Linked DNA regions of Homo sapiens. The protein of the gene in region 2 interacts with the protein of the main gene of each other region in a biochemical or structural test. Each region holds a gene or a part of one and is shown on either strand. Other genes may lie near its edges. The genes, in order: KDM4A, ERG and USP9X.

Region 1 (3,752 bases), on a different chromosome or scaffold from region 2:
AAAATTAGCCGGGTGTGGTGGCGGGCGCCTGTAATCCCAGCTACTCAGGAGGCTGAGGCAGGAGAATCATTTGAACCTGGGAGGCGGAGGTGGCAGTGAGCCGAGATCGTGCCTGGGCAACAAGAACGAAACTCCGTCTCAAAAACAAAAAAACAAAAAAGCAAGCAAACAAACAAAAAGTGTGCAAAGGGAAAGGTGAGCTTAAAAAGGAAACAGGAAAACTGGTCAGAAAAATGGGAGCATATCACGAGAACTTGATTTAGGCTCCACCTATCACATGCACATACCAATTGGAAGCTAGTGATACACAGTAGAGGGCCCTTGGAAATCATCTGGCAGCACCAGGAAATACAGCAAAATCCAGTTTATGGAACACAGTAACAGTAACTAGCGACTGTATCCATGTCCAGGACAGTGGAGTCTGTGAAGCAACCTGCAGTATCTTGTGCTTAGTGGCAGCAGGAAAGACAGTGGTGGATGAATTCTACCGCAGGATTTGGGTTTTCTTTATGTGTCCTGCAAGTTGGATTCTTCAGACTCGGCACTTTTGTGAGCCACTCAGTATAATCTATTATCTAATACTGTCGATTACCTTACTGGGTAAGGGCAAAAACCCCTATTGTGAAAGACTTGTGGCTGCGTAGCCAACGGCCATTCTTTTTGAAACAGTCATTTCTGTTTTTGAAACTATTTTTTTTAAAGATTTTTTTTTCAGTAGGCATGTACCCAGCCTGAGGCATAAATCATGATTGGTCCATAGCATTCTATGAAATATGTTCTTTTTGCCAACATTCATTAACTCTCATCTTTACAAAATTTGCAAGGCATTATTTTTTCCATTTTATTGATGTGAACTCCCAGGCTCAGAGAAGTTACTAGTTTTGAACACAGGCCTGACTCCATATAGCTCTTTCCAGGGCACTACCCCATTATTCATCCATGGTAATTCTGTATATTTTTTTATGACTCTGGTTGTGGGTATTTTACTTTCCTACTTGACCTTCCCCACTACCCTTGACAATCTGGGAATTCCTTAAGGCGACTCACTACCCCTCAGGAACCGCTCCTAATGACTTCTAGGAAGCCCCCTCGCCCTCCAGAAGTGCCTCTTCTGATTCCCAGGATGCCCCCCTCTCCGCCCCAAGAGCTGCTCCTAATGATCCCCCAAATCCCCGCTCACTGAGGAACTGCTTTTTTTTTTTTTTTTTTTTTTTTAGACGGAGTTTCACTCTTGTTGCCCAGGTTGGAGTGCAATGGCGCGATCTCGGCCCACCGCAACCTCCGCCTCCCGGGTTCAAGCGATTCTCCTGCCTCAACCTCCGGAGTAGCTGGGACTACAGGCATGCAACACCACGCCCGGCTAATTTTGTATTTTTTTTTTGAGTAGAGACGGGGTTTCTCCATGTTGGTCAGGCGGTCTCAAACTGCCGACTTCAGGTGACCCGCCCGCCTCGGCCTCCCAAAGTGCTGGGATTACAGGCGTGAGGGACCACGCCCGGCCAGGAATTGCTTTTTAATGACCCTAAGGAGAGCCTCCCTCATGGTCTGTCCTAATGACCCTCAGGGCAGCTTCCCTTCCCTGTTCAGGCTTGACAGCGAATGAGGGGTTTCCAAGGCCACGGGATTTTGTTTTGAAAACCGAGACACCCAGGACAAACCGGGACAAGACGGTCATCTTTTCAGCACTCCCTGAGCTCGGAAGCTGCCCCTAAGGGCCCCGACACATTTCCACGTTAGGCAAAGAGGATACTCATCCCAAGAAAACTTTGGCCTATCCTTTCGTTAGCGACATCCTATAGTAACCTCACCGCCCTTACCCATCTACCGGACCGGCCCACTTCCAGGTACTAGCTTCTTTCAACCCTGATTAGTTATGGGTGACCAGGAGCCCGCCTATGATTGGCCAGCTTCGCGATCCAGCTAGAGGCTCACTGGCCGCGGTCCCTAGTGGTACAGCGTTTCCTCCCGGCAACAGCCCGAGCCGGCGCTCATAGGCTGAGCACACTGAGGTCGGGACTGGGAGGTGGCTGCGGCGCGTGCTCATTGGCTGGTGTATGGCTTGCAGCCACCCTTGAATTGGTTGACTCTGTACGGCTGCGCAGATGCCGACTTTAGAGGAGGCGGAGTTTCGGCCTTCGCCTGCTGGAAAAGCAGTAGGATCGGCCAGTGGCGACAGCAGGAGCTGAGCCTAAGCCCTGGCGGGGCTTTGGGCTGTAGGTGAGAACTATAGGGTTTTGGAATTCTCGAGGATCATTGCCGCTGTAGCAGTGACCGTGAGTTTTGGTGGGGGAGGGGCGGTGGGGGTGGGTCTTCCAGCGGTGAGTGATCGGCATGTTTCTCGGCCAATAGGAGAAGGAGCTTCCAGAATGGGTTCTGAGATTGGTCCTTTCCAATCTTCAAGGCCAATGGACCTCGGGAGAGGGGGGCGGGTCATCTGGGCCTTATTTTCTTCTTCCTGCGGCCGAGCTTCACTCGCCAAGGCGGCGGGGCCGGGAGGGGCCGAACCTGTGCGCGGTGAGGTTCGGGGACGGTGGGGAGCAGGGTGCGCTGCCTTTGGAGTGATGCTCGCGGGAGCGGCTGCGAGGGAAGGGTGCGGGAGTCCGAGGGGGTTGTTAGCAACAGCTAGCTTTATTGAGTGGGTAAGTACCGGGCCTAGTGCTTAGTGCTTCGCTTGCATCATCTGAGCTAATCACAGCGACCCTGCAGGGCAGGGGGTTGGGATCCCCATTTTACAGGTGGAGAAACTGAGACTCAAGTCAGCTCACACAGCCAAGGTCACATAGCTAATAAACGGCAGAGACCGGATCTGTATTCAGAGTTTTGACTTCGGAGCCGGTGTTCTTGAATCTCTAGGCTTTGTTACTGATTGGGAGGGAAGGTGTCATGAAACGGGAGCTTTCCCCAGGGAACAGATTTGGGGGAAGGGAATCCTAGGGTTGAAGAAGGGATGAACAATTGAGGTGAGGGTGAGGAAATCAGTTTTTCAACAGTTACCGATTGCCTACTCTGTGCCATGCATTGTTCTAGGCATACAAAGATGAATAGGGGCAGAGGCTGATGAAGCCCATTAGGGCCCCTTTGAAGGCCCGGGGAAGGGCCCCAACATTGTATTCACATGATTGTATGTTTTTATAAAATGTGCAAAAGTAAGATATTTTGGATTCATTTTTCTTTTTAAGAGGGTCTTCAAAATTAAATAAACTTCGGGTTTCTCCACACTTGGAGCTGCCCTTGCAGAGGACTTAGTCCAGGTGGAGATGAGTATGTAAGCAGTATAGAGCAGTGGAAGGTGCACTTAAGAGTGGGCTGTGGGCAAATTTCCTGGTATGTAAAACAGGGAGAACAGTATACCTGCCATGCAAAGTTTCTGCCAGGTTCATGAAAAGCGCCTGTTTAGAAACACGCCTTATTTTTGATAGGAAGCCTAGGAGATACGGGTAACTGGATTTGCCTTCTCTCCTACCTTACACAGTTGTGCTCCGTGTTCTGCTCCCAGGCCTGTAACTAGATTTCTGGTGGATTGGAGGCGCTTTTCTCCTTTCTGAGCTCTCCAACTCTCAAAGAGAGTCTTGGAGCTGAACCGCCATACCTTTGGGCCCCAGATAGGGGGTACGGAACTGCTGGACCCTCAGTGAGGAGGGTGGGTAAAGGAAAGGACATACTGGTGTTCCTTCTAGAATGGCCTATTTTCATTGATATGCTTTGTCTTTTTTCAGTTGAGGTGGTCTATTGCGTTACCGAGCTGTGGGGAT
Region 2 (3,752 bases):
CCGGACCTTTTAAGGAGAACATGAACCCCAGGTTGCAAGTTCTGATCCTAGAAAGATACTTAATGTGTAAAAAGGGAATGTGGGGGATTTTCCATCATCACAGAGATCTGACATTGAAGGATGTGGAGAGAGCCAGCAGCCGGCAGCAGCATCAGGGGAAAGCATCTTAAAAATCAGACAGGACATGGAAAGTTACTAACAAGGCTTGGTGGAGACCTGAGGGCACCCTAGTGCTATTTCCATGACTTGCCTAAAGAAGTTACTTTTTTTTGAATTAACAGAGGTTGGAAGGTTTGATGGTAATTGAAACACGACCTGATAGGACTCAATTTTATTAATTTAAAGACATAAAGCTTGCATTATATACGCCACGTCTGCACATTTGCACTTCTTGAACGTTTGCTATCACATGTGAGGGAAACTTAATTAAGACTAAGAGTTATATGAAGAAAGTTAACTCCTCACAGAATTTTGATGGATGTGATTAATGAGTTTAATAGCTACAGATTTATGATTTTTCATCAACCTGTTGGCTAAGTGAAATACGAATTGCGTCAGTCCTTGTTACTTTAGGGGGATTCCGGGAGAATGGAAGGAAGGCCAGGGGCAAAATGCCGCTGCCCTGCTGTGCATAAGTCATTTCAGAGCATGCTCTGAGTGTTTGTCCTTGCCGAAAAGTGGCTTTACAGGCAACTACTTTAAAACAACTTGCTGCTTCCGTTCTTGGTCAGCTCTGTGATCCAGGCTGCCCTCTGTGGACACAGCACAGTTCTCCCTGGCCCTCTGCCTGTGTGTGCATGCACCCATGCATGCCAGGCACCCTGACTCAGTGACCCTGGAAAGCAGGATTGAGAATGGCTCCATCTGTGGGCTTTTCTTCCCCCATGAAATACAGTGCAGGACTGCAATGCTCTCAGACAATGTGCTGAGCCTGAACCATTTCTTAATTATCTACGTTTATAAGTGATTATCTCATAAAGTTTTTGTTTTGCAAAACAGATCTTTATTTAAACACAAACACAGGTTAACAACTCTTGAAAAAGCATACATAAAAATAAGTAAATGAAACAACCATTTCTGTTGTCTTCAGGAAAATATGACTGATACATTTAGAACTTTAGAATAAGATTCCCTCTGTGGGAGTGGAGACCCAAAGCCATTATAGGCATCCCAACAATTTGGCGGATTTATTGGTTTAACAGCTGATACATAAGAGAATCACAGAGTAAGGGCCATGGGGAAGCCAGACGGATGAGAGTTTCTCTGAAATGAGAAACCTCAGAGAAGAGACAGGGACAGTCTCCAGGCTGTTCCAGCGTTTGGTAGCACACTGTGCTCTGGCGGGGTCTTTTCTTTGGAGCTACCTCAAGGAGAGCCTTCTTGTCCCCTCCTTTGACCCCACAGGATAGAGGACAACTGCTCCCTGGCCTGGGGATTCTGTCAGACCACCCCTGATAGCGCTTCTCTCACCTTACGTGGCCGCAGACACACTTGCATTTGCTTCCTTCCTGTTGTGACCCTGGGCAAGGTAGCTAGCCTGTCTGATCTCAGTTTCGTCACCTGTAAAATGGGATCATAATGGCTACCCTGTCTCGCACCCATCCTCAATAAATGGCAGATGCCATCAGACGCCCCCCCGCGGATGTAACCTTTTCTACCGTATTGTCTTTCAGGCTCTGCACTCACTCGTCTCAACATTTCCCACGGCCCAGCTTCAGCTGTGAAGCCCACAGCCATAGACTGCTCTGATGTGCGGCCTCCCACACCCAGGCAGGGTACATCTGGGTCTGGGCAGCCACAGGACAGGGAAGGAAGGAGGAGGGAGCTTGCAGGGGTGCTTGTTAAAGGTGTAGCAGGGCAGGTACCACACACAGGGGCAGGTGGAGCGTCCAGGGGTCGCCCGAGGTGGTGCTGGTCAGAGAGGGTTGGCTTCGTCCTGTTCTGAGCCGAGGCTGCTGGAGGAGGGCAGAGGCCTATGACTGCATCGTGCTCCTGGTTAGGGCAGGAACAGCACCCTGGAATACCCCACTCTCCTCTTTACTCCTGAATTACAAAAAATACATCTTGTTCTTTAGCATAAATTATAAACATAAAAAATTCTTATGGTAGAGAAAACGTTTAAAAGTCATCACAAAGTCAATATAAATTGTTCAGATCCTAACCAACCACAGCAAATTCCTAACAATTGGGATATGTCTCTCCACCGTGTGTATCTGTTTGGCCTTGTATCTACCTACCTGTCCTGCTCTTCTCAGTTAGCATTGTTTTACAAGCATTTTCCCATGTTACTAACATTTTTTGATAAGCAAAATTTTTGTTTCATTATATTCTATCTAAAATATGTATTACCATTTTATAACCAATATCCTAGTGTATAAAGTGATGCTGCTTGCGATGTTTCACTCATTATATTGCAGTACACCATCTATTTAATTTTTTGAATACTTTTTATTAGTATTGGTGCCTAGAAAGGAATTATTGAGCCAATGGGTATATATATTTTTTAAGTCTTTGCCAAATTTAAATATTTGCCAATTTAAAAAATAATTACCAGATTATTCTCTGGAAGGATTATACCAGTTCTCCCTTTTTCTAGCCACATATGAGACCAGTTCCACACTACACCCATAACAACTCTGAATATTTTACTCTTTGAATCTTTGCCATTCTGACAGATAAGAACAGAATCTCATTTTTATTTGTACTTCTTTAATTTTAGTATTTCATTACATTTTTTTGTTTGTTTGCTGTGAACCCATTTTGGCTAGTGGTCCACTGTGACCTCTGGATTTTTTTTCTTATTTATACTTTTATTCTCTGTTTGGTCTAGCTTACTTTCCACATATTTCCCCTACTGAGCTTGGCCAAGACATGTTTTATAAAATTTCACATCGATTCCCATCTGTCCACTCTCCCACTCTTCATTTTCTTTCCTGTCAGCACATTCTCCCAGCTTTGCTTGTGTTTGTTGTTGAGTGTGAATAATTTATGTATACCCACTGATATCGCAGAAGCTGTTTTTAGTGATATCTTATCCATTTCTTCTGTGTCCTCAACAGTGACTGGCAAAGAGTAGAGGTTCAATAAGCACTTGTTGAAAACATAAACTTAAATTTTAATTATTTGAAATCATAAAGAGGAAGTTAAGATATCAGAGTAATGTAATTATCATTGTAGACTTCAAATAGAATTCTTATGTTTTTAGAGACATTTCTCCTAGTAAAATAACGTTAATTAAAATTGACTTAAATTGATGTTTAAGAAAGTATAAAAAATGTAGCTGTAGTATCTTGAATTCATAATCCAAACTAACATCATCCTAATAACTGCTTGTTATGTGCCAAGTCCTGTGCTAAACTCTCATAATGTCTCATGTGATCCTCACAGCAGCCTGGGTACTGCTGCTTTCTTACAGATAAGGACAAAGGATTAGAGAGGCGAAGTATCTTATACAAGTCACACAAATCTGTCTCCCTTCTCTTTATCATCTGATCTCTTTTTTCCTGCTATTCACCCTAGCTGTACATAGTGAATTACTGTGCAGAGAAACATGATGTATTAAGTGTTATGGAGACACATGAAATAATTGGATAATGAAAATTATTATCGCTGGTTACTTTATGTTATCTACTCTTCTGGGAAAAATCCCATAGGCAGCAATTCTTATACTCTAGGTGGCTAATCAAAACAAAGTTCTAGAAAATTCAAGAGGTAAAACTCTAGCACTGAATTCTATATTTGCTCAGTGACAA
Region 3 (3,752 bases), on a different chromosome or scaffold from region 2:
AGGACTAGTTGGCTTTGTATTATTACTCTGTTGTAGTTTGGGAGAAACTGAAATGAAATCCTGTGTTATTGGCAAATCAGCCAAATTGTACTATTGCCTGTCAAAATGCTTTGCCTGCCATGTATTCTCATTATTAGAATTCAAATACTGTACCTCCAAATTATGTCACTGAATCCTAACTTGCCTTCAGAGATGCAGTTTTATAAAAGGTATTGATGTGTAGCAAATTACCCTCAACTACAGCAGTCATAAACTTAGTTATAACTTTTTTAAAGTTTGCATTACTCTCGAGTGTCCTGAATTCACTTCAGGTAATGTGTTTAAATTACATATATGGCAGAATTATTTTGGACTGGTAATAAGTTAGTAAGAGCACAGACTCTGGAGTCACACTGCTCCGCAGCTATATGACCTCGGCAAGCTGTGTAACTCTGTGCCAATTTTCTCACCTGTTAAAAGTTTTAATAATAAGGCCAGGCGCAGTGGCTCATGCCTGTAATCCCAGCACTTTGGGAGGCCGAGGCAGGCGGATCACGAGGTCAGGAGATTGAGACCATCCTGGCTAACACGGTGAAACCCCGTCTCTACTAAAAATACAAAAAATTAGCTGGGCGTGGTGGCACGTGCCTGTAGTTGGGCTGAGGCAGGAGAGAGGCGTGAACCTGGGAGGCAGGACTTGAAGTAAGCCGAGATGGCGCCACTGCACTCCAGCCCAGGCCGTCTCAAAAAAAATAAATAAATAAAAAATAAAGGTTTAATAATAGTACCTATTGTCTAATGTTAGATTAAATGACTAAAAGACATTATTGAGTGGCACATAGTAGGCACTCAGTATATATTAGCTATTAGATTTTAGATGTTTTTATTTTATATCTGGTTCTCTTTCAGAATTCATAATGCACTGAAAGGAATTCCAGATGACCGAGATGGGCTGTTTGACACAATCCAGCGCTCTAAGAATCACTATCAAAAAAGAGCATACCAGTGTATAAAATGTATGGTAGCTCTATTTAGTAACTGTCCTGTTGCTTACCAAATCCTGCAGGTGAGGATTTTTTTCTTATAATTTTGTAGAAATCTTAATCAGAATTAAGGATTCTGTTTTAAAAGAAGAGAATCATGAGAACTTGGGGTTGTCATTTTAAGTTAACTTTGAAGTATTCCAAATCCTCTTATCTATATGGTTTTATTTTCTTTTGCAGGGCAATGGAGATCTTAAAAGAAAGTGGACCTGGGCAGTGGAATGGCTTGGAGATGAACTTGAAAGAAGACCATATACTGGCAATCCTCAGTACACTTACAACAATTGGTCTCCCCCAGTGCAAAGCAATGAAACGTCCAATGGTTATTTCTTGGAGAGATCACATAGTGCTAGGATGACACTTGCAAAAGCTTGTGAACTCTGTCCAGAGGAGGTAAAAAAAGCCACCAGTGTGCAGCAGATAGAAATGGAAGAGAGCAAAGTAATTCTTTATTTTATAGGCCAGTGTTTATGTATTAATGATATTATTAAAAGATTATGTTGAAGTTTTGGGTTTTGAAAAATGTTTATTCGGCTGGGCATGGTGGCTCACGCCTGTAATCCCAACACTTTGGGAGGCCGAGGCAGGCGGATCACCTGAGGTCAGGAGTTCAAGACCAGCCTGGCCAACAAGGTGAAATCCCATCTCCACTAAAAATAGAAAAATTAGTCGGGCGTGGTGGCAGGCGCCTGTAATCTCAGCTACTTGGGAGGCTGAGGCTGGAGAATGACTTGAACCCAGGAGGCACAGATTGCAGTGAGCGGAGATCGTGCCAGTGGGCTCCAGCTTGGGTGACAAGAGTGAAACTCCATCTCAAAAAAAGAAAAGAAAAGAATGTTTATTCTATGTCATTTTAAGCTAATGAAGGGAGCTTTCTTTTGGAGAAATTTCTGTGAAATTGCCTGAAATGTAGTAGTTCTGAGAGAATGCAAATCAGGTTTTTTGTTTTGTTTTTTTTTTTTTTGTTTTTTCCCCAAGTTCTTTATCTGCAGTAAAAGAAAAGTTGCTAATGGGTCAGTTTTGTAGATTTTTAAAATTTATTTCAAATAGAAAAAGTTAAAAGTAAACTTGAGTTTGCCTACGTAATTTTTTATCTTGAAATATTCAAAATTAGGAGCCAGATGACCAAGATGCTCCAGATGAACATGAGTCGCCTCCACCTGAAGATGCCCCATTGTACCCCCATTCACCTGGATCTCAGTATCAACAGGTAAACAGGAGTCAGTTTATGCTTTTATCCCCTAGAACTGGGTTTTATGCTTAATTTTAGAGGATGGCTCAATTGTTTGTTGTGACTACAAAGTAAGAAGTAGGATTATCTAGACTAGCTTTGGGAGCATGATCCAGAAGAGGGATGGTTTGGAGTGGGGGTCATGGTGTAACATGTTTGAACTTAACCACTGTAGGGTTTTCCTTGTCAAGAAGGTGTCCTTCTTGTGCTAGTAGTTAATAAAACTGTATGAGAATTTATATCAACATAAAATGATCATTGTTTAGTGCAAAGGATTGTGGTGACATTTCCGGTGAGGTAAAATCTTCACCTGGATTCCAAAAACATTATTAAGATATGGCAATGAAGTAAGAAGTCCTTGGTTACTTAGCCACAGGTTTCAGTGATGGTAAAAATCACTGGAAAAAAAAGGATTTGGGTAGATTTCCATAGGTGATTAAAGTAAATAAACTAGTAAATAGCAAAAGAAATGAGATGAAGAAACATTCTAAATGATAACTTTTTCTTTCTGAAACCAAAATGTGACTAAATCAGCTCTTGTGAGGCAGTGGTACTCAAACTTGCACAGGCGTGAGTCTCCCTGGAAGGGTTGCTCCAGCAGAGAGCTAGATGCTACCCTAAAGTGTCTTATTTCATAGGTCTTCAAGGGGCTGGAAAATGTACATTTCTAGCAAGTTCCCAAGTGATGCTGCTGGTGGTCCAGGAACCATACTTGGAGAAACATTTCAGGCATTCTTTCTTACATTTCACTGTGTACATAGAAGCAAACTGAATAGTTAGGAAGTACACATTCAGCGTACTTATTTTCATCTATAGAAAGTAAAGCCTGGCCAGGCGCGGTAGCTCATGCCTGTAATCCCAACACTTTGGAAGGCTGAGGCAGGTGGATCACCTGAGGTCAGGAGTTTGAGACCAGCCTGACCAACATGGAGAAGCCCTGTCTCTACTAAAAATACAAAATTAGCCGGGTATGGTGGTGGCGCATGCCTGTAATCCCAGCTACTCAGGAGGCTGAGGCAAGAGAATCTCTTGAACCCAGGAGGCAGAGGTGGTGGTGAGTCGAGATAGCACCATTGCACTCCAGCCTGGGCAACAAGAGCGAAACTCCCATCTCAAAAAAAAAAAAAAAAAAGTTAAGCCTAAAATCTTGGCTTGGCTGATGGAGCATGTACAGAAAAATGAGAGCACTGTAGGGTTCAGACATTTTAAAAGGTTAAGGAACCAAATCCACAAGGAAGGTTAACTTCCTTTGACCCTGAGAAAGCTCTTATGTTAATCATGCCTGGTTACTTTATCATCTTGAACATTGTTCTGTTTTTAATCAGCATTATTGTGAGTTCAGGGTTACTGCTCCTATATATCTTACATCATGGTTAGTCAATCGGATTTAGCATGTGGAAGAGTCAATAGATGCTCATAGATCATTCTCTGAAAATTTTTTACCAAGAGCAACAGTGGGTTAATCCTTTATTTGCCAGACTTGAGTCTAAATAATTTTT

Evidence for each region.
Region 1: the proteins of ERG (region 2) and KDM4A form a complex in vitro, tested with the Homo sapiens proteins (one study listed by IntAct).
Region 3: of the proteins of ERG (region 2) and USP9X, one has a biochemical effect on the other in vitro, tested with the Homo sapiens proteins (2 studies listed by BioGRID, with this or other methods).

The regions. Positions count from the first base shown.
Region 1 is NC_000001.11:43,648,036-43,651,787, forward strand, and holds the start of KDM4A (lysine-specific demethylase 4A), read left to right. Parts: upstream 1-2,113; 5' UTR 2,114-2,217; intron 2,218-3,752. UniProt on the Homo sapiens protein: Histone demethylase that specifically demethylates 'Lys-9' and 'Lys-36' residues of histone H3, thereby playing a central role in histone code. Does not demethylate histone H3 'Lys-4', H3 'Lys-27' nor H4 'Lys-20'.
Region 2 is NC_000021.9:38,491,868-38,495,619, reverse strand, and holds part of ERG (transcriptional regulator ERG), read left to right. Parts: intron 1-3,752. UniProt on the Homo sapiens protein: Transcriptional regulator. May participate in transcriptional regulation through the recruitment of SETDB1 histone methyltransferase and subsequent modification of local chromatin structure.
Region 3 is NC_000023.11:41,228,365-41,232,116, forward strand, and holds part of USP9X (ubiquitin carboxyl-terminal hydrolase 9X), read left to right. Parts: intron 1-888; coding exon 889-1,045; intron 1,046-1,202; coding exon 1,203-1,415; coding exon of another isoform or gene 1,416-1,463; intron 1,464-2,136; coding exon 2,137-2,232; intron 2,233-3,752.